4 separate regions of the Homo sapiens genome follow, and all the other regions are reported to be linked to region 2. The links are microRNA targets in miRTarBase. Many come from high-throughput screens and were not tested one by one. Region 2 holds a microRNA gene; each other region holds the end of a gene's coding sequence.

Evidence for each region. The annotated mature microRNA hsa-miR-3179 reads AGAAGGGGUGAAAUUUAAACGU and lies in region 2 at 2,659-2,680, opposite strand. An mRNA with a match to its seed (bases 2 to 7 or 8) in the 3' UTR can be bound and repressed. Matches are read on the target gene's strand: a 7mer-m8 pairs with bases 2 to 8, a 7mer-A1 pairs with bases 2 to 7 and ends in A, and an 8mer does both.
Region 1: miRTarBase lists PRRC2A as a target of hsa-miR-3179. Seed matches in the 3' UTR shown: 7mer-m8 at 3,036-3,042.
Region 3: miRTarBase lists GPR20 as a target of hsa-miR-3179. The part of its 3' UTR that is shown has no 7-base or 8-base seed match.
Region 4: the mRNA of MLLT11 is a reported target of hsa-miR-3179. Seed matches in the 3' UTR shown: 7mer-m8 at 2,980-2,986 and 8mer at 1,065-1,072.

Annotation. Positions count from the first base shown.
Region 1 is chr6:31,636,076-31,640,741 of GRCh38, reverse strand. PRRC2A (proline rich coiled-coil 2A) reads right to left here. Exons shown (of 31, transcript NM_004638.4): 26 at 4,323-4,533; 27 at 4,134-4,232; 28 at 3,797-4,009; 29 at 3,606-3,700; 30 at 3,418-3,508; 31 at 2,971-3,296. The coding sequence ends at 3,156. It overlaps BAG6 (BAG cochaperone 6), which reads left to right. Exons shown (of 26, transcript NM_001387994.1): 22 at 38-97; 23 at 214-357; 24 at 436-543; 25 at 1,096-1,242; 26 at 1,516-1,714. The coding sequence ends at 1,611. Among named protein-coding and RNA genes, the nearest start is that of MIR6832, 4.6 kb to the right of the region's middle.
Region 2 is chr16:18,409,247-18,413,912 of GRCh38, forward strand. It overlaps MIR3179-3 (microRNA 3179-3), which reads right to left and starts at 2,731; the gene lies at 2,648-2,731. The region is part of intron 2 of LOC112268172 (a long non-coding RNA gene); the gene reads left to right.
Region 3 is chr8:141,353,218-141,357,883 of GRCh38, forward strand. GPR20 (G protein-coupled receptor 20) reads right to left here. Exons shown (of 2, transcript NM_005293.3): 2 at 3,253-4,666. The coding sequence ends at 3,630. Among named protein-coding and RNA genes, the nearest start is that of GPR20, 12 kb to the right of the region's middle. RefSeq lists enhancers at 3,266-3,887, 3,888-4,509.
Region 4 is chr1:151,067,276-151,070,535 of GRCh38, reverse strand. MLLT11 (MLLT11 transcription factor 7 cofactor) reads right to left here. Exons shown (of 2, transcript NM_006818.4): 2 at 992-3,260. The coding sequence ends at 3,039. Among named protein-coding and RNA genes, the nearest start is that of GABPB2, 1.9 kb to the left of the region's middle. RefSeq lists an enhancer at 1-260.

The DNA.
Region 1 (4,666 bases), not on the chromosome of region 2:
GATCTGAGAGGAAGTATGGTGTTCTTTAATTTCACAGCCACTTCCTGAGGAGCCAATGGAAGTTCAGGGAGCAGAAAGAGCTTCCCCTGAGCCTCAGGTACTCTAGAGAGGGGGAGGTTGAGGGGCCAGATAATGTGGAGTGGAGGGCTGGGGGAGAAAGGTTTGGAGGCTAAAAATTCTGAAGCCTGGCTCTTCCCGCCATCTGACACCCAGCGGGAGAATGCTTCCCCAGCCCCTGGAACAACAGCAGAAGAGGCCATGTCCCGAGGTCCACCTCCTGCTCCTGAGGGGGGCTCCCGGGATGAACAGGATGGAGCTTCAGCTGAGACAGAACCTTGGGCAGCTGCAGTCCCCCCAGTAAGTGTCAGGAAGTAATCCAGTGGGTCATGGCAGCTGAAAGTCAAGGACATTACTATTTTCTCTTTTCCTCCCCAGGAATGGGTCCCTATTATCCAGCAGGACATTCAGAGCCAGCGGAAGGTGAAACCGCAGCCCCCTCTGAGTGATGCCTACCTCAGTGGTATGCCTGCCAAGAGACGCAAGGTTGGTTTTCCTCTTCCCTAAGCCTCTCTCTCTATCCAGGTTTCCCCGTCATGCCTGGAATCAAACTATGTAGAGATGGTGGGAGCTCTTGTTATTCAGTCTCCCCTCCCCTCGTTTAATGAGGAAACTTTTTCTGGGATTCAGACTTGCTCTTGGTTGTTGCATAACCATACAGGACTTGACCTTAGTCTGTTTGCTAGCAGTCCTGTATTAGTTGCTCAGCTGCCTAATCCCCATGTGCTTAGATCCCATTTTCCTTTAAGGTGGGTTTCCTCTTGTGGATTACCTAGCTCTGAATCCCGGATGGCTTGACCCCTTCTGCCTTTCGTTTTGAAGAGCACGTTCAAGCACATTCACTTTAGTTTTGGCTAGTGCCAAAGAGAATTAGGAAGGCATTTCTGCTGTAAAAACCACATCCTGGACTCTTAATTTCCCCTCTCTCCACTAGCATGGAGACTCAGTGGAGTGGTTGACTCATGGAAAGGGTGAGCCGGATGGTGGCACTGGATCTGACGTTGATCCTCTTTTCCCTCCCAACCCCCTGTCCCCCAGACGATGCAGGGTGAGGGCCCCCAGCTGCTTCTCTCAGAGGCTGTGAGCCGGGCAGCTAAGGCAGCCGGAGCTCGGCCCCTGACGAGCCCCGAGAGCCTGAGCCGGGACCTGGAGGCACCAGAGGTTCAGGAGAGCTACAGGCAGCAGGTGCCACCTTGAAGCAGAATAGGGATGGTCTAGTGGGAGGGGTTGGGCTAGGGTCCCTCTTCCCTGGATCCCTTCAGCGATGAACTGGTCAGCCTGGTGCTACCATTTGTTTTCCCCTTTGGCATCTGGGAAGGCTTGACAGTGCCACCCCGGGCTATTTGACAGTGTGCTTGGGGGGGGAAATGTTAGCTTCTGAGGGATGGCCTTGTGTGCTTGCTGGGATCATGGGGACTTGGCCAGCGTTTCTCCAACCTGCTTACTTTTTCTCTTTAGCTCCGGTCTGATATACAAAAACGACTGCAGGAAGACCCCAACTACAGTCCCCAGCGCTTCCCCAATGCCCAGCGGGCCTTTGCTGATGATCCTTAGCTCTTTGCTCTATGGCCCTTCCTCATCAGGGGACCGTTTCCCCCCTCTTCCTTCACAGTATTTAAGAAATAAAAGTCGGATTTTTCTGGCTGCTTTCTCTCTACATTGTCTCCATTAGGTAGTGTGTCCCTTAATCTTGTGTGAACTTTTTTAAATTAATACTTCCTTGGAACACTGTTGTGTTCTACTCAGCACGCTAAATTGTACAAGCCAGTTTTGATGTTTGTTTTTTTTTTTTTTTGAGACAGAGTATTGCTGTCTCCCAGGCTGGAGTGCAGTGGCCCGATCTCGAGCTCGGCTCACTACAACCTCCACCTCCCGGGTTCAAGTGATTCTCACTCATGCCTCAGCCTCCTGAGTAGCTGGGACTACAGGCGTCCGCCACGACGCCCGGCTAATTTTTGTATTTTTAGTAGAGACAGGGTTTCACCATATTGGCCAGGCTGGTCTCGAACTCCTGACCTTGTGATCCACCCGCCTTGGCCTCCCAAAGTGCTGGAATTACAGGCGTGGGCCACCGCGCCCAGCCTGATGTTTGTATTTTTTGTGCGAAAGCACTTTATATATAAATAAAAAACCTGTATTTTGAGTTGGGAGCATATTCCAGGTGCACACTAGCATAGAGCTCTCAAATTACCCATCAAAAAAAGTTTCTGAGCAGCTGCAGACCTAAGTATAGTCTTTAGCATAACTAGCATGCAGCGTTACCATGTGAAATCCCACTTAGTTTGACAATGCTGGAATTGGTCTATCCAATTCAAAGAGCCCCTTAAGTGTGCTCCAACATTGAGGCCTTAACAGAGATTTCCCCTTAGTTCATCATAAAGAACTGAAGTCCCATGGCTGCAAATTCTTTGCTAGTCCCTTTGAGATGCAGTTGAAGTCCCTTCTAAACCCCCCCATCCCCTACCTTGGCTAGTTTAGTGCTCTTATCAACTAAGCATGGCATAAGCTTAGAAAATTCCAGCTAGACCTCTTGGAACATGAGCTCACGGACATTTAACAGGCCTGCTGGAGAGTCCATGTGAAGACACTGGTTGATAACCCAGTAATGTTACAGATGTCCCACCAAGGCCCTAGATATGCAAAGGAAGCCATATTGGGACCAGCCCAGGTGTCAGCTGCAGACTGATAACCAGTTGACCTCGCTCACTGGCACAAAAAAGCAGATTTATCCAGCTGAGCTCAGCCCAAATTCCAGACTCACAAAAATTTAAAGATCCAATACGATGGTCATGTTTTTAGTTTCAACAGCTCACTGGAATAAGTAATGAATATTTCCCTGACTGAAACTACAGATCACTCAGCACCATGCTTTAAGACAATGCAAACAACTCATCCCCCAAATCATTGTAGAAGTTTTTTTTTTTAAATCCTTTTATTACTCTTTTTTAACAAACAGCCCCAGGGACAGGGGACCAGGGGAAGGGGGAGGAGGGGAAGTGAGGCCCCAGCCCCAGAACCCCTCCCCGCCCACCCCTTTCCCCCTTATATATTTATAATCTATATACAAGCCCCGGGGGTAGGGGGCAAGAGGAACTCCCTCAGCGGGGTGGGGGCAACCCAGGCTCCTTGTCCCCTCGGGACCCAGGCTCCTCTGCCCGTCGGGAGGGCCCTTCTCGAGGTGGCGGCCCTGTCCGCTCCCAAGGCTTAGGTATCCAGCGCAGGGCATCTGGTGGGGAGGCCTAGGGGACAGGCATGTGTTAAACAGTGAGTCACAGTGAGAGGTCAGCGATGAGACGGAAGGACAGGAAATCAGGTGGCAACTCGAATTTAGAGTTGGGGCCACAAGGGTTTCTCCTTCACCTGCTGGTAAAGGTCGACGCGCTGGGTGCGGAAGACTCCACTGTAGGTGGAAGGCGTGGCCTTGAGACGGGAATTGAGGCCAGAGAAGGACCTAAGGGAAGAAGGGCGTCTAAGGCAAGCCTAGGATCCAGACCCTGGTTCCAAAGTAAGGAAGCACTTGGAAAGTCCACATCCCTATTCCGTTTCACCTTCCAGTTGGGGGAGTCCGTGATGATCCAGGTCCCCCAAGGTTGCTGCTCAGTTTTTGATAATCCTGGAACGGCTTTAGTTCCACTGGATGCAGCTGAGGGGAAAAAAATCATGAGCTGCCTACCTTGAAATACAGAATCCCTACTCCCAAGTCTTGGCGCTCCCTAGCCCCTCAGTTCCTGTACCTTACCTCTGCTCGCCCCAAGCTAGCGGGGAAGGGCCTGGCAGGTGAAGGCAGCACCCGAGTAGCAGGAGCAGGTGGGGGCCGCACAGCCAGGCTGGGGGGCTGCAGAGCAGGGCCCACAGGTAACAGAGAAAGGGGAGGTGGGGCAGGAGGTGGTGCTGGCGGCAGGGAGCCAAAGTTCACCACAGGCAGCTGTGAGTCTACCATGGGTAGAAGCATCTGTAACAAGAAATTTGGGTGTGCATGTTGGGGGCAGGGAGGAATGTCAGAAAACCAGGGAAAATCAAAGCCAGCAACTGGACAGAGAAATCAAATGAAGGGGAAGTGTGAAGATACAATATACCTGCTGGGCAGGAGCCCCTGAAGGGAGAAAGCCACTTTGGCCACCAGGCTGCAGAGGAGTAGAATAAAAATCCGAAGGGGATGGCAGATCCTGGCGTACCTGTCGGGAAACAGGGAGAAATATATCAACCCCCACAAAATCATTCTCCCTACCCTATCCCCCAATATCTAATACCTGCCCCCCTCTTACCTGAAGCAACGATGTGTCAGGCAAAGGACTGGGGCAGAAAGCCGGAGAGTAGAGGAAGGAAGGTGGAGGGTAGAGAACTCCTCCAGCCGGCAACTTCCCCAGCTCTGTAGCTTGCATTGTGGAGAAATCCAGAAACTGGCCCTTGAGAGCTAACCCAGAGAGCAGTGCTGAGGGAGGGGCTGGGCCGGGGGGTAGGTATAGGGGCTGTGATCTGAAAATAAATTGTGGGGAGAAAAGCTGTTAGGAAGCCAGAGTCCTAGCAATGCCTTAAGTCCACTAGCTTCTAGTACCCTAGAACTGTGTCTTCCCCTTCCCTCTCCCCGAAACACATCTCCAAGTACTTC
Region 2 (4,666 bases):
ACATATCCATAAATATTTCTCTATGTAGCCATCTGTATCTATATTGAGCTAAACATGTGTTCATACTGATGCCTGCCACTCTAATCCACTGCCACATGGATCACTCTAGCCTTGCCTCCTTTGCCGACCTGTAAACCTCCCGCCCCCCACCCCATCTATTACTTAATGAATTTCAGTAAGCATGTGAGGTGGGTGGTTATGGAAACCATTTTTGACCTATATATAAGATGGCAGTTTCGTCTGATTTCTCCTAAATAGAAGACGAGTGTGAAATGGTAACATGGTGTCCGTAGGAGTCATATGGATGGACCATGGCCAACCATATTATTAAGGAATATTCATGCATTCATCCATCCATCCATCCATCCATCCATCCATCCATCCATTCATTCACCAGTGAATGAGTAAAGCATTAGGTATTCACCACACTGTCCTCTCCTGGACTTCCCCCTACCTCACGGGCCACTTCCTCTCTGTCTCTTGGGCAGGGCCCTCCTCGCCCATCCTCTGAAGGTTGCACTGTCCCAGGGCTTGGCCCCCAGCCCTCTCCTTTTCTCAGTCTTCATAAGGATACCTATTATTCAATCCCGTGGCCTCATCTGTCATCCAAAAACACTCCCAGCTCACCACGTCTCATCTCCAGCCGTGATTTCTCACCCAGGCTGCAGACTCGGGTGTCTGATAAGCATCTCAAACTCACGATGGCCAAAACAGAAGTCTCAATTTACCTACACATTTCAGTGGTTCAGCTAGAAACAAACGATTCACTTATCGTTGATTCCTCCCTTCCCTCACCTCCTGTATTAAATACATCAGCAAGACCTTTCTGCTCTATCTCTGAAGCATAGCCCCAAGCTCACCACTTCCTGCCACTGTTACTTCCATCACCCCAATCCAAGCCATTGCTGTCTTTTGCCTAAACCAACACAACGTCCTCTTTGCTTCTCTCCCTAAATTCATTCTTGCTTCCCAATAATCCAATCTCCTCAAAATTTAAAGAAGCAATTGTTTAAAAACATACATCAGATCACTCCCCTTTCCCTACTTAAACCCTCCAATGCCTTCTGTTGCCATTAGAATAAAATCTAAACTCCTTTCCAGGGCACCCACATGACCCGGTCCCTGCCATCGTTCTCATCTCTTCCTCTCAATCACTTGACTCTGGCCACCCTGGCCTCTTTGCTATTCCTGAAACTCAGGGAGCTCATTTCCTCCTGGGGGCCTTTGCAATTATGGTCCCCTCTGCCTGGGCAGCTCTTCCCCCAGATCTTTGCATAACTGGCCCTTCCCCTCCTCAGGTCTCAGCTCAGATGCTGCCTCCTCAGAGAGACCTTCCATGATACCAATCATCCTCTGTCACATTGCCTTGTTCTGCTTCTTTTCTTCGTAACGCCTGGCATTATCCAACAACTTCTAATGTGTGTGTTTACCTTTCGTCCTCCATCAGCACTGTGCTCCTAAGAGCTGAGGCTCGGTCTCTCTCACACCACTAAACCCCCAGTATGCCAAGCAGCACCCAGCACAGGGGAGATGCTCAGTTAATACTTGTTGAATGAATTAATGATGCTCCCCCTAAAACTAAACTTTACAAAGCACCCACTAGACAACAGGTTAGAAAACATTTTCTAGGCCAGGCGCAGTGGCTCACACCTGTAATCCCAGCACTTTGGGAGGCTGAGGCAGGCAGATCATCTGAGGTCGGGGTTTGAGACCAGCCTGGCCAACATGGTAAAGCCCTGTTTCTACTAAAAATGCAAAAATTAGCCAGGCTTGGTGGCAGGCGCCTATAATCCCAGCTACTAGGGAGGCTGAGGCACGATAATCATTTGAACCCAAGAGGCGGAGGTTGCAGTGAGCTGAGATCACACCACTGCACTCCAGCCTGGGTGACAGAGAAAGACCCCATCTCAAAAACAACAACAACAACAACAAAATGTCTTCTGTAAAGACCCAGATAGCAAGTATTTTAGGCTTTTTAGGCTACCTGGTCTTTGCCACAACTACTTACATCTGGCACTGTCAGGCAAAAGCAGCCATAATCTGCAAATGAATGGGCATGGCTGTGTGCTCATAACACTTTATTTATAAAACAAGAACAGTGGGCCATAGTTTGCTAACCCCTGCACTAGCCCAGTCTAAGTCTTGAATATCATCTGTGTAATTAATTCACAGTGAGGAGTTCTCCACTGTAATAATTACTCATTCCATGAATGCATGCCACTCAGGTGAGGCGTTCTTGAAACTCTGAGAGGCAAGAAGCAAAATGTTCTTTCTCCATACCCAGGCACACTCCAGTCTGTGAAAAGGAAGCAAGAGAGGCAGGCTGCAAGTTTGATCACTGGGTGGCTGCTAGCCACCTCTCCCCCTCAGCTCCAAGAGCAGAAACAGGATGAAAACGCAGCAGCTGCCGGCTTCTGTCCTCTTGCCAGCTGCCTCTCTTGCAAGACTAGACAGGGAGGGGCAGCCGCCAGTCTCCGGAGGCACAGACTGCACAGAATTGAGGATCACTTGTTCCAATGCATTCATCTTATCTTACAAAATCTTCAAATTCCAAAAAGCACACGTAAGAAGGGCTGCTGTTTCATTCACACAGTGAAATATTGTGCATCTGAAAGAATATGTAGATGGGTGGCATCTTCAACAACCCCAGGATCACAGACGTTTAAATTTCACCCCTTCTACTGCTGTAAGGCACAGCAGAAGGAGTGTAATTTAAACGTCTGTGATCCTGGCTGGGCGTGGTGACTCTTGCCTGTAATCCCAACACTTAGGGAGCCCAAGGTGGGAGGATTGCTTGAGCTCAGGAGTTCAAGACCAGCCTGGGCAACCTAGTGAGAGCTCATCTCTACAAAGATTTTTTTTAAAAAAATTAGCCAGGTGTGGTGGTGCACTCCTGTAGTCCCAGCTACTCAGCAGGCTGAGGCACGATGATCCCTTGACCCTGGGAGATCAAGGCTGCAGTGAGCTGTGATGGTGCCATTGTACTCCAGCCTGGGGAACAGAACAAGAACCCATCTAAAAAAAAAAAAAGAAAGAAAAGTTCATATTCCAACCAAGATCTCACCATTGCATCATCAAGCATAAACACCTGCCCCCACTGAAAAAGTACAGAGGAAGGCAGTCATATAATATCTTCCCTCCTGACCTCACCAAGTTCCAGGGCAGGAAGAGTCTCGCCACCCCAGCACACAGTAGGCCCACTGGAAAATGAGTGCTCCCTTCTCTAGGCATTTCATTGTCATGGTCATAAAGTCAGGTTCATTTTTCTAATGAAAGAGAAAGCCAAAAATGGAGGCTGATTTTTTTCTTTTTTCTTTTTTTTTTTTTTTAGTCTCACTCTGTCGCCAGGCTAGAGTGCAATGGTGCGATCTCGGCTCACTGCAACCTCCGACTCCCTGGATCAAGTGATTCTCCTGTCAGCCTATCGAGTGGCTGGGACTACAGGCGCCCACCACCACACCTAGCTAATTTTTGTAGTTTTAGTAGAGACGGGGTTTCACCATATTGGCCAGGATGGTCTCGATCTCTTGACCTCATGATCTGCCCATCTCAACCTCCCAAAGTGCTGGGATTACAGGCATGAGCCACCACACCGGGCCTGGAGGGTGATTTTGACCAGGCCTTCTCAAGTTTTGGAAGGAAGTGGAGCTGACTTCTCTTCTGTTGCTTTTGCCCACCCAGGATCACTTATTCCTCTGGGTAATACAGCACCCCAGGCACAGGGGCCGCCTGTCACATGAGCGTGGGCATGGCTCATGTGCGGCCAGGCCCCAGTGATTCTGCAAAGGTTGCCCATAAGTCCTTCCCCCGCCCCAGGACTGGCATATTGATGTGGTGGGATGGAAGCTGTCCTTCTGCTGGGTCTGCAGATGGGGGCAATGTAAAGCCTGACATTGCCGGATGATGTCAGAAGCGGAACCCATAGGCAAAAGCCAGCTTTCCAGCACTCCACTCTCAGTTTCCTGCCATCTCCACTTCTGTGGATGTGTGCCCGGCATCTGCCTCTGCCCCTGCCTCTGAGAGCAGTGACTGAGCAAACAGTCCTGGACCTGGTTGAAAGGATGGGCCTGTCTGTTTCTAGCAGAGTGGTCTTTCAGAAAGCTGATTCCTGAAAGTTGGCATCAAGGGAAGCAGAGCCAGGAGGTGGAAATTGAGACTGGGTCCCGCTATGCATGAAGCCAGAGACTCTTGGATTTCTCCGTTACTTGACCAGAGGAATGCCCCATTTTGCTCAAGCTAGTTGGAGTTGGATTTCTGTTACTTGAAACCAAGAGAGCCTTAACTAATACACAACTAGAAATGCATCCATGGTCACTGCCCATTCATGTGACAGACATTTATTGAGCACTATTCCAGTTACCTAATGTTGCATGAGTTACCCCAAAACTTAGAGGCTTAATTCAGTCGTATAAGATATTCACAGATCCCGTGGGTCAAGAATTTGGGAAGACACTGTAGGTTGAACTTTGTTCTCTGCTTTGTCTTTCTTGGAAAGAGAGGACACAGCTTGAAGTCATTACTGATTTGGGACTGTATGTAATGCATATCTGTGCTTCATTGTCACTGTGTTTTTAAGTTTTCTAAACTTAAAACAGCTCATTTTCGGGGGACATAAAGAACCTGGGAAGAGCTCAGCTGGGCAGCACTGACCTGGGGTCTCTTGAGT
Region 3 (4,666 bases), not on the chromosome of region 2:
GCCCCTAAATCTGCCTCCCAGCAGGGATGACAAAACCACAAAACCACTGCCGCTGCCTCCCTGTGGAGCCCTGCTGGTCCGCAGGACACAGAGTTGGGGCGTGCGTAGGGCTGCCACCCTGCTCCATACCCTCCGCCAGCTCCATGTCCCCCACCAGCCCAGGACCAGAGTCGTGGGCAAGAATAGAATAAACAGCTTTAATTCCAGACGAGGACATCTCGTGAAGGAGATTGTTTACGTCGGATATAAATACACACACCATTTCACGTCACTTGGGCGTTTTGAAAATCTGGAAAGGGAGATCATGGGGAGGGGGCGCAAAGATCTCACGCCCTGTCCCCGTGAGTGTGGAGAGGGGGCACGCACAGATCTCACCTCTGCCCCTGTGGGACCAAGGACAGTCTTGGTCTGACTTTTGAAGCTCCTGGGCCTCGGTGCCCACAGAGGAGGCTGAAGTGGGAAGGAGCCGGCCGTCAGGAGAAGGAAGCAAGCAGCCGGGGGAGCTGTGGGGCCCAGTCCAGGGCATTGGGGTGACCCCCTTCCCCAGCCCCCTGCCCTCCAGCTGTAAGGCTGAGGAGAGGAGAAAGAGGAGTGGGGTGTGGAGAAACTGAGGCTTGCCTATCAAGGGTTCTGCATCGGGGGCTGGCAGGCAGTTCTCAGAGGTCTGAGGGTGGGCCCCAAGCCTGTGTCCCTGGCCACAGAAGACAGGCGGCCTGTCCTCTCCAGCATGAGTGGTAGTGGACGCACTTGCCGCTTCGGACAGGATGTCCTTCCCCTCCCGGCCTCTTACAGTCTGAGAAGCCTCTGAGGCCCGAGGAACCCAAGTTGAATGATTGGATTTCAGATGTGGGGACAAGGAGGGGACCTGGCTCACCTGCCTTAGAGACCCCTCCTCCTGAAGAAAGGGATTGTTCCAGAAAAATTGCAAGCCCTGCCTCTTCAAGCACAGCAATCCTCAAGTGTCAGCCATTCACTCTTTAGCGTGAATTAGAGTGACAACCAGGAATGGAGCCAGGCTGGGGGTCATTGATGGGGAGGCCAAAGGCCCGAGGGGCACGTAACACCGGTGGAGGAGGGGCAGGGAAGACTGGCGGGGAAGGGGCCGGGAAGACTGGTAGGGGAGGGGAGGGGCTGGGAAGCTGCATGGAAGGCCCTTCACTGGCCCCAGCGAGGCGGGCGCTTGGCCTTACCTTTGCCCAGGCCATTCCCCCTCATCTTAGCACTCCTTCCCGCTGGCCCCTGCCTCCTTGCAGCCCTGGGCTGGAGAGGTCTTCACAGTACAGTGCGGGACCAAGGGCAGAGGGGTGTCATACTCTAGGCCACGTGCAGAGCTTGCTTGAGGGGCGGGAGTGGGAGCCGGCAGGTAGTCTCTGGGGCTTGGGGCGCCCCCTAAGATGGAGCAAGAGGATCCACAGCTCCTGGAGGAATGGAGTCCAGAGTCCCTGGCCCTGGATGACTTGTGAGCGTGGGTGGAGGGGTCCCAGGTAAGCAAGGCCATTCAGGGACTGCTGGGCCACATGAGCCTGGAAGAAGCTCATGGCTTGGGCTGGGCAGGACACCTGAGCCCTGACCCCTCACTCCTCAGCTCTAGGCATGTGACCACGTGGGTGCCAGCTCGCAGCCCTGGGAATGATGGCTCGCTGGCTGTTGGTGCCTGCTTGCCTGAAAGTCGCCGTGAATGCTGCACCTGTGGTCAGCGGGGTTTTTCTGCATGCACAGCCCTGTCCCCCAGCCACGTCCTTTCCTGAACGCTGGGCCCCTCTGCCTTGTGGAACCCTGCATCCCTGGTAAGCCACGGCCCCTCTCTGAGCAGCACCCGAGAGCTGGGGGCTGGGGGAAGGTTCCAGAATTGTGCCTGGTGCCTGGTAAGTATCAAGAATGCTGGCGGCCATGGTGATACCCACTGCTTCTCGGGCATCCGGACCCAGGGAGGAAGTAACCCTGGCAGCACTCCCAGTTCCACCACCTTGCGGGGCACGCCTCTGACTCCTCTGGGCCGGTGCCCCCCACCCCAGCTGCTCCACATGGCCACAGCTGGGGTTGGTGAGGACAATACTGGCCTTGGATGACTCAGGCACTCACTCTATGACCTTGGCAAGCCCCTTTCTCCCTCTGAGCCTCAGTTTCTTCATTTGTAACATGGGGATATAAAGTCCAGGACCCTAAACTGGGGTCAGGAGACTCTGCCTCGAGCTGAATCGGGGAGCCCCGGCCTTTTCCTCCTCCTCCCCCTCCTGCTCCCAGCCACACAGGCCACGGTCACCCTGAGTGTGTAGGACTTCTCTGTAGCCAAAGGCCTGGCCTGAGGACCTGAGCCCATCTCGCCTGCTTCAGTGGCTATGGCCAGGTCTGATGGCAGGGCCTCAGAGCCGGAAGTGCCAGGGATGCCCCACACTCCTCTTCCTCACCACAGGCTCCCTTCCCCATTACCAGTCCTGAAAGGGCTGGGAGCTTGGACGCTCGGCAGAAGGCACGTGGGAGGAAATCCTGGAGTCCAGCTCTGAGGAGATGATCAGAGGCCCCAGCCAGAGAAAAGCTCCCTCCCTAGTGAAGGCATGGGGACTCATAGTGAGCTGGGCCAGAGCAGCTGGTCACGTCCTCTCTGCCCCCGGGGGGAGGAAAATGGCTGTTTGCATGGGGAGATGGTGGCCACAACCCGGCATGCCTGGGTTCACTGCTGCGTGACTTTGTTCTTGGTTTTCTTATCCATAGGATGGGGCTGTGAACACTGCCTCTACCTGGGGCAGCAGGTGAGCCATTCTGAGGCCATTCCTAGAGTGGGGGCTTTGGGATGATCGTGCACTCTCTGTGGAAGGAGGTGCAAGGGCACTGGAGGAGGTGGGGCTGGTTTTCATTCTGACCCTGCCATTTCCCAGCTGTGGCCCCTGTGTGTGTCACTTGACCCCTCCAGCACCAAGAAATGGATGAAAAGTAGCGTCTCCTTTGTGGGTTGTTGTGGGTTCAAGTGTCAACCTAGATATCACAGTGCTTGCTCACAGCAGAGCGGCCTGTGGGTGTCTGCCGTTTTATCGTGCAATTCACGGAGGCCTCAGGTGGGGGGGTCTTGCAGAGACATGCACCCCCCCCCACCTCCATTAATGCAACACGAATGCTCCCTGGCCTTTTCTTTCTGTCCTTGTCCTTCCTCCTGTGTGTGTGTTGGAGGGAGCATTGTTGTTGTTAGCTCTCTCGGGAATTCAGGTTGTTTCTTAACTCTCTTGGGAATTCCCAGCACCTAAATAATCTTTGTCCTTTTTTCTTTTTTCTTTTTCATCTCATCCTTCTAATCAATGGAATCCACTGTGCCCTTTTTTCTGAGGAACTCCTTCTGGAGACAAACTGGCCAAAGTGAGGAGCAGCTCCCGGCTACCCCTGTGAGTTTTCAGTGGACGTGCTATACCCCAGGAACAGCAAATCACCGGCATTCAGGCCACCACATCCCATCGGAGCCAGTGGCAGACATTGCTAATCAACCACAGCACAGTGGCCTTAGACGCTCAATGCGGTGCTCTGGGTAGCCATCACCAATCAATCGAGATGGAACCGATTGCCACCCCTGGCATGGTGGGTGTCCACGCTGGCATGCCCAGATGAGTCCTGACCTTCGGCCCCTGGCAGAGCCCTGCTGACTAAGCCTCGGGCCCATTAGCCAGGGCCTGGGTGAGGGCGTGAGGGCCGGCACTGAGGATGTGATGACGGCCTGAGCCCTTGGAGCTCCTGTGCATGCTGACCACGTCACCGCTGCTGGGCTCACGCTCTCCGTGCTGGCCGAAGAGGCCTCGGACGGTGGCCTGGAAGCCACTGGTGACGAAGCAGTAGACGATGGGGTCCATGCAGCTGTTGAGGCTGCTGAGGGTCACGGCCACGTGGTAGACCACGAGGCTCGTGTGGTGTGGCATGTCGGGCCACAGCGCCACGGCCACTTGGCGGGCGTGGAAGGGCGTGAAGCAGACGAGAAAGATGATGAGCACCGTGAGCAGGAGCTGCATGGCCCGCACGCGGCGCTGGCGACCCTGGTGGAGCAGACCCGGCCGCGACAGTGCACACATGATGCGGCCGGTAAACACGCTGATGACCAGCAGGGGCAGCAGGAACTCCAGGACAGTCAGCGCAAAGACACGGCAGCAGGGCCGGCTGCCTGTCACGCCCAGCACCGACAGGGTGACGGCACCGGCGGCCAGCCACACGAAGGCGCACACGGCCCTGGCACAGGCAGGCTGGCGGCAGCGGCGGGAGCCTTCGGGCCGCACGATGGCCAGGTAGCGGTCCACGCAGATGCAGGTGAGGAAGAGGATGGAGCAGTGCATGTTGAGGAAGTAACCGAGGACGTGCGGGAAGGCACAGCGCAGGCAGCCCCTGGCGCCGTAGTACACAGCGAAGCGCGTGGGCAGGGACAGCCCTACCAGTAGATCGGTCACCACCAGGTTGATGGTGTAGATGACTGAGGGTGTCTTGGCCCGGGTGCGGCAGCAGAAGACGTACAGCGCCAGCCCGTTGAGCACCAGCCCTGCCAGGAAGATGGCTCCGTGCACCGCCATCAGCGCCAGCCACAGGCCTGGGAAGGTGCCATGCAGCTCCTCGTCCAGCCGGGCAAACAGGTGGAACAGGGGCACCTCCAGCCCGCTGGCATTGGTCCGCACTGTTGTCACTGCGGTGGCATTGGGGA
Region 4 (3,260 bases), not on the chromosome of region 2:
CTGAATAGTTCCAGCAGGGGACGGATCCTAGGTCTGGTGTTGGCGCCAAGAACCTGGCGAACTGCTGAGGGAGACTCGGAGCGTGCGTCAGTCATGCAGATTGCGTCTTAACTCTTGGCTGCTTCTTCGGGGTCCGGGGCGGCCAGGTTTAGTTTGACAGGAAAGCCTCGTTTCCTTATCCCAACCTCGGCTGCAGCTGTTTGGGACGTTCCTGGCTTTGTGCATTGGGTTCTGGTGCCTGATGGACACATTTTTCCAGTTACAGGCCGAATGTAAGGACCCCAGAGCCAAGCTGTCAGTGAGAACAGTGAAACAAATAACTGAGTCATTTCTTTTCTTTCTTTCTTTTTTTTTTTTGAGACGGAGTCTCGCTCTGTCGCCCAGGCTGGAGTGCAGTGGCTCGATCTCGGCTCGCTGCATGCTCCGTCTCCCGGGCTCACGCCATTCTCCTGCCTCAGCCTCCGGAGTAGCTGGGACTGCAGGCGCCCGCCACCACGCCCGGAGATTTTTTTGTATTTTTAGTGGAGACGGGGTTTCACCGTGTTAGCTAGGATGGTCTCGATCTCCTGACATCGTGATCCACCCGCCTCGGCCTCCCAAAGTGCTGGGATTACAGGCGTGACCCACCGCGCGCGGCCTTTTTTTTTTGAGACGGAGTCTCGCTTCGTCCGTCGCCCAGGCTGAAGTGCAGTGGCGTGACCTCGGTTCGCTGCAACCTCTGCCTCCCGGGTTCAAGTGATTGTCCTGCCTCAGCCTCCCCAGCAGCTGGGATTACAGGCGTCCGCCACCACGCTGGGCTAATTTTTGTATTTTTAGTAGAGATGGGGTTTTATTTTACCATGTTGGCCAGGCTGGTCTCGAACTCCTGACCTCAAGTGATTGGCCCGCCTCGGCCTCCCGAAGTGCTGGGATTACAGGCGTGAGCCACCGCGCCCGGCCTGAGTCATTTCTTTTTGGAGGCCTGCAAGAGGATGGAGCATGAGTTTGCAAATCCATTTAGTCACTTTATTTACCAAACAGTTGATCCCTGTCTCCACCCACCAATTGCCATGGCTGAAGGACTCTGAAGGGGCCCTTCAAAACTCAGTAAAAATAGAAAAGGACGCACTACTTATCCTTCCTGGCCCCATTCTTCGTTAGACTGGGACCGTCTTTAGATGTGGGCTTTTCATGGCCTAGAGGGAGGATTTGTCTTTTTTTCTCCCACCTGGGGACTTCTCTAGATCATCCTTATTTAGGGTATAGTGTCATCCTTATTTATAGTACACTGCCCAATTCTGTCCTATCCATATTGGTATTTACAGTTTCTCTTTTGAGAGTTGGAGTCTTGTCTCATTCCCGTTTACATTCTGTTTGGCTCAGTGCTTTCCTATAGCAGGCACACAAAAACCAGAAGTTAAGCAGATAACATATTTGAGTGAATTCGTTTATCTTCTTAGGCACCTAGGAGAATTATTACCTGAAATATAATGTTGGTAGTCAGTGGGCAAGCAGAAGAGTGGTTGTACCTGTCTCCCTAACTACTTTTCTAATTTTAAGTTGATTTTGCCCTTTCATTATCTGTTCAATGCGAAGTTCACCATCTAATGTCTAAATGCTACTCAAATCATTCTTCCTCTAAGTTGAATATTATTATAGAAAGATAAAATGAGGCCGGGCTCAGTGGCTCACGCCTGTAATCTCAGCACTTTGAGAGGCTAAGGCGGGCAGATCACCTGAGGTCAGGAGTTAGAGACCAGCCTGGCCAACATGGTGAAACCCCGTCTCTATGAAAAATACAAAAATTAACCAGGCCTGGTGGCAGGCGCCTGTAATCCCAGCTACCTGGGAGCCTGAGGTGGGAGGATCCCTTGACCCTGGTGGGTGGAGGTTGCAGTGAGCGGTGATCCCCGCCACTGCACTCCAGCCTGGGTGACAGAGTGGGACCCTGTCTCAAAAATAAAAAAGAAAAAAAAGATGTATAAGCTAAGTGTGAAAGCAAGGCTAATTTCTCAGATTTCTGTGGCTTTTCTTGTGAAGAGAGAAAATTAGACTCCAGTCCTGGGATTGAATGTCTTTATTAAATAAACGAGTAAATGGTAGCACAAATCACCATCAATATTTTTGGAAGGATTGGGGACAAGATGTCGAGTCAGAATATAATTGTTCATTTCAGGGTCTCAATGTAGCTGAAGAACTGTGCCCACTGATCAGTATTACGTATTGCAAATGCAGGAGGTAAGGCTAAAATAGGACTTATGCCGTTCAGAAGATTGAATTGAAACCTTAAAAACTATCATAATAGTAGGAATGCATGTTAAGATTTGATAACTTTCTTTAGCTAGAGTTTTCAACCCACAGTTAGGAGCAAAGTTGTAAAGTGAGTAGGTGTGAAGAAGGGACACTCTTTTGAGAAAAGAAATTAGCTACTTCTAAAATGATTCAATTATTTTCCCTATTTTCATTTTCCATAATATTTCCTCCTGTTTTATACCTCTAACTACCCTCCTGATTTCTCTGAGGAAAAAAAAGAATATAAGAGCAGGATCAAAAAAAAGCAAGAGACTTATCACTTTAGCCTTTTAGAAATACTGTTTCGTAGCAGATAACCTCAAATTAAAACTTCCGAGGTTTTCATCACCCCTTGAAGAAATATTTGTGTTTACTGCCCTGGAGCAGGAAATTAGGAAGGTTTAAGGAATCTCTGAAGCTGATTATAATAGAGTCAAAAATCAGTCTTCCATTTTGCACTACTATACTACTCTCAGGTGTCCCCAGTCAGGCCTAGTTTCTGGAGTTAATATTTGGGGGGGAAAGGAGGAATCCCTGTGACCCAGTACTCCATTGCTTGAACCATTTACTTTGTGACTTGAGGGCTTTTGAGAGAAATGGAGTAGACAGATAGATAAATAAATACATAGAACTCAACTCTGGCAGATTCATCAGCACCACCAACACAGTAGGGAGAGAACAAGATTAAAATGGGAAAGGAGTGGAAAGGAAGGGGCTTGAGAGGGAAGACAATGAGGGCAAGGTGATGGGAGAGAGAAGTCTTGGCCTTAGAGCAAGTCCAGTTCGAAGGAGTGGATGCTGGCAATGGGAGCTCTCCAGAAGTTGAAGGTGCTGTACTCAAGGAGGCCATCACCTTCAGGGTTTTTCTCCTGGTCTGCTGCAGTTGCTTGCCCGATCATTTTGCCAACGCTGCTGTCTTTGACCTTGTAGGTGGCTGTATCTGACAGACCCAGGCCTTCCAGCTCCGACAGATCCAGTTCTGGGATGGG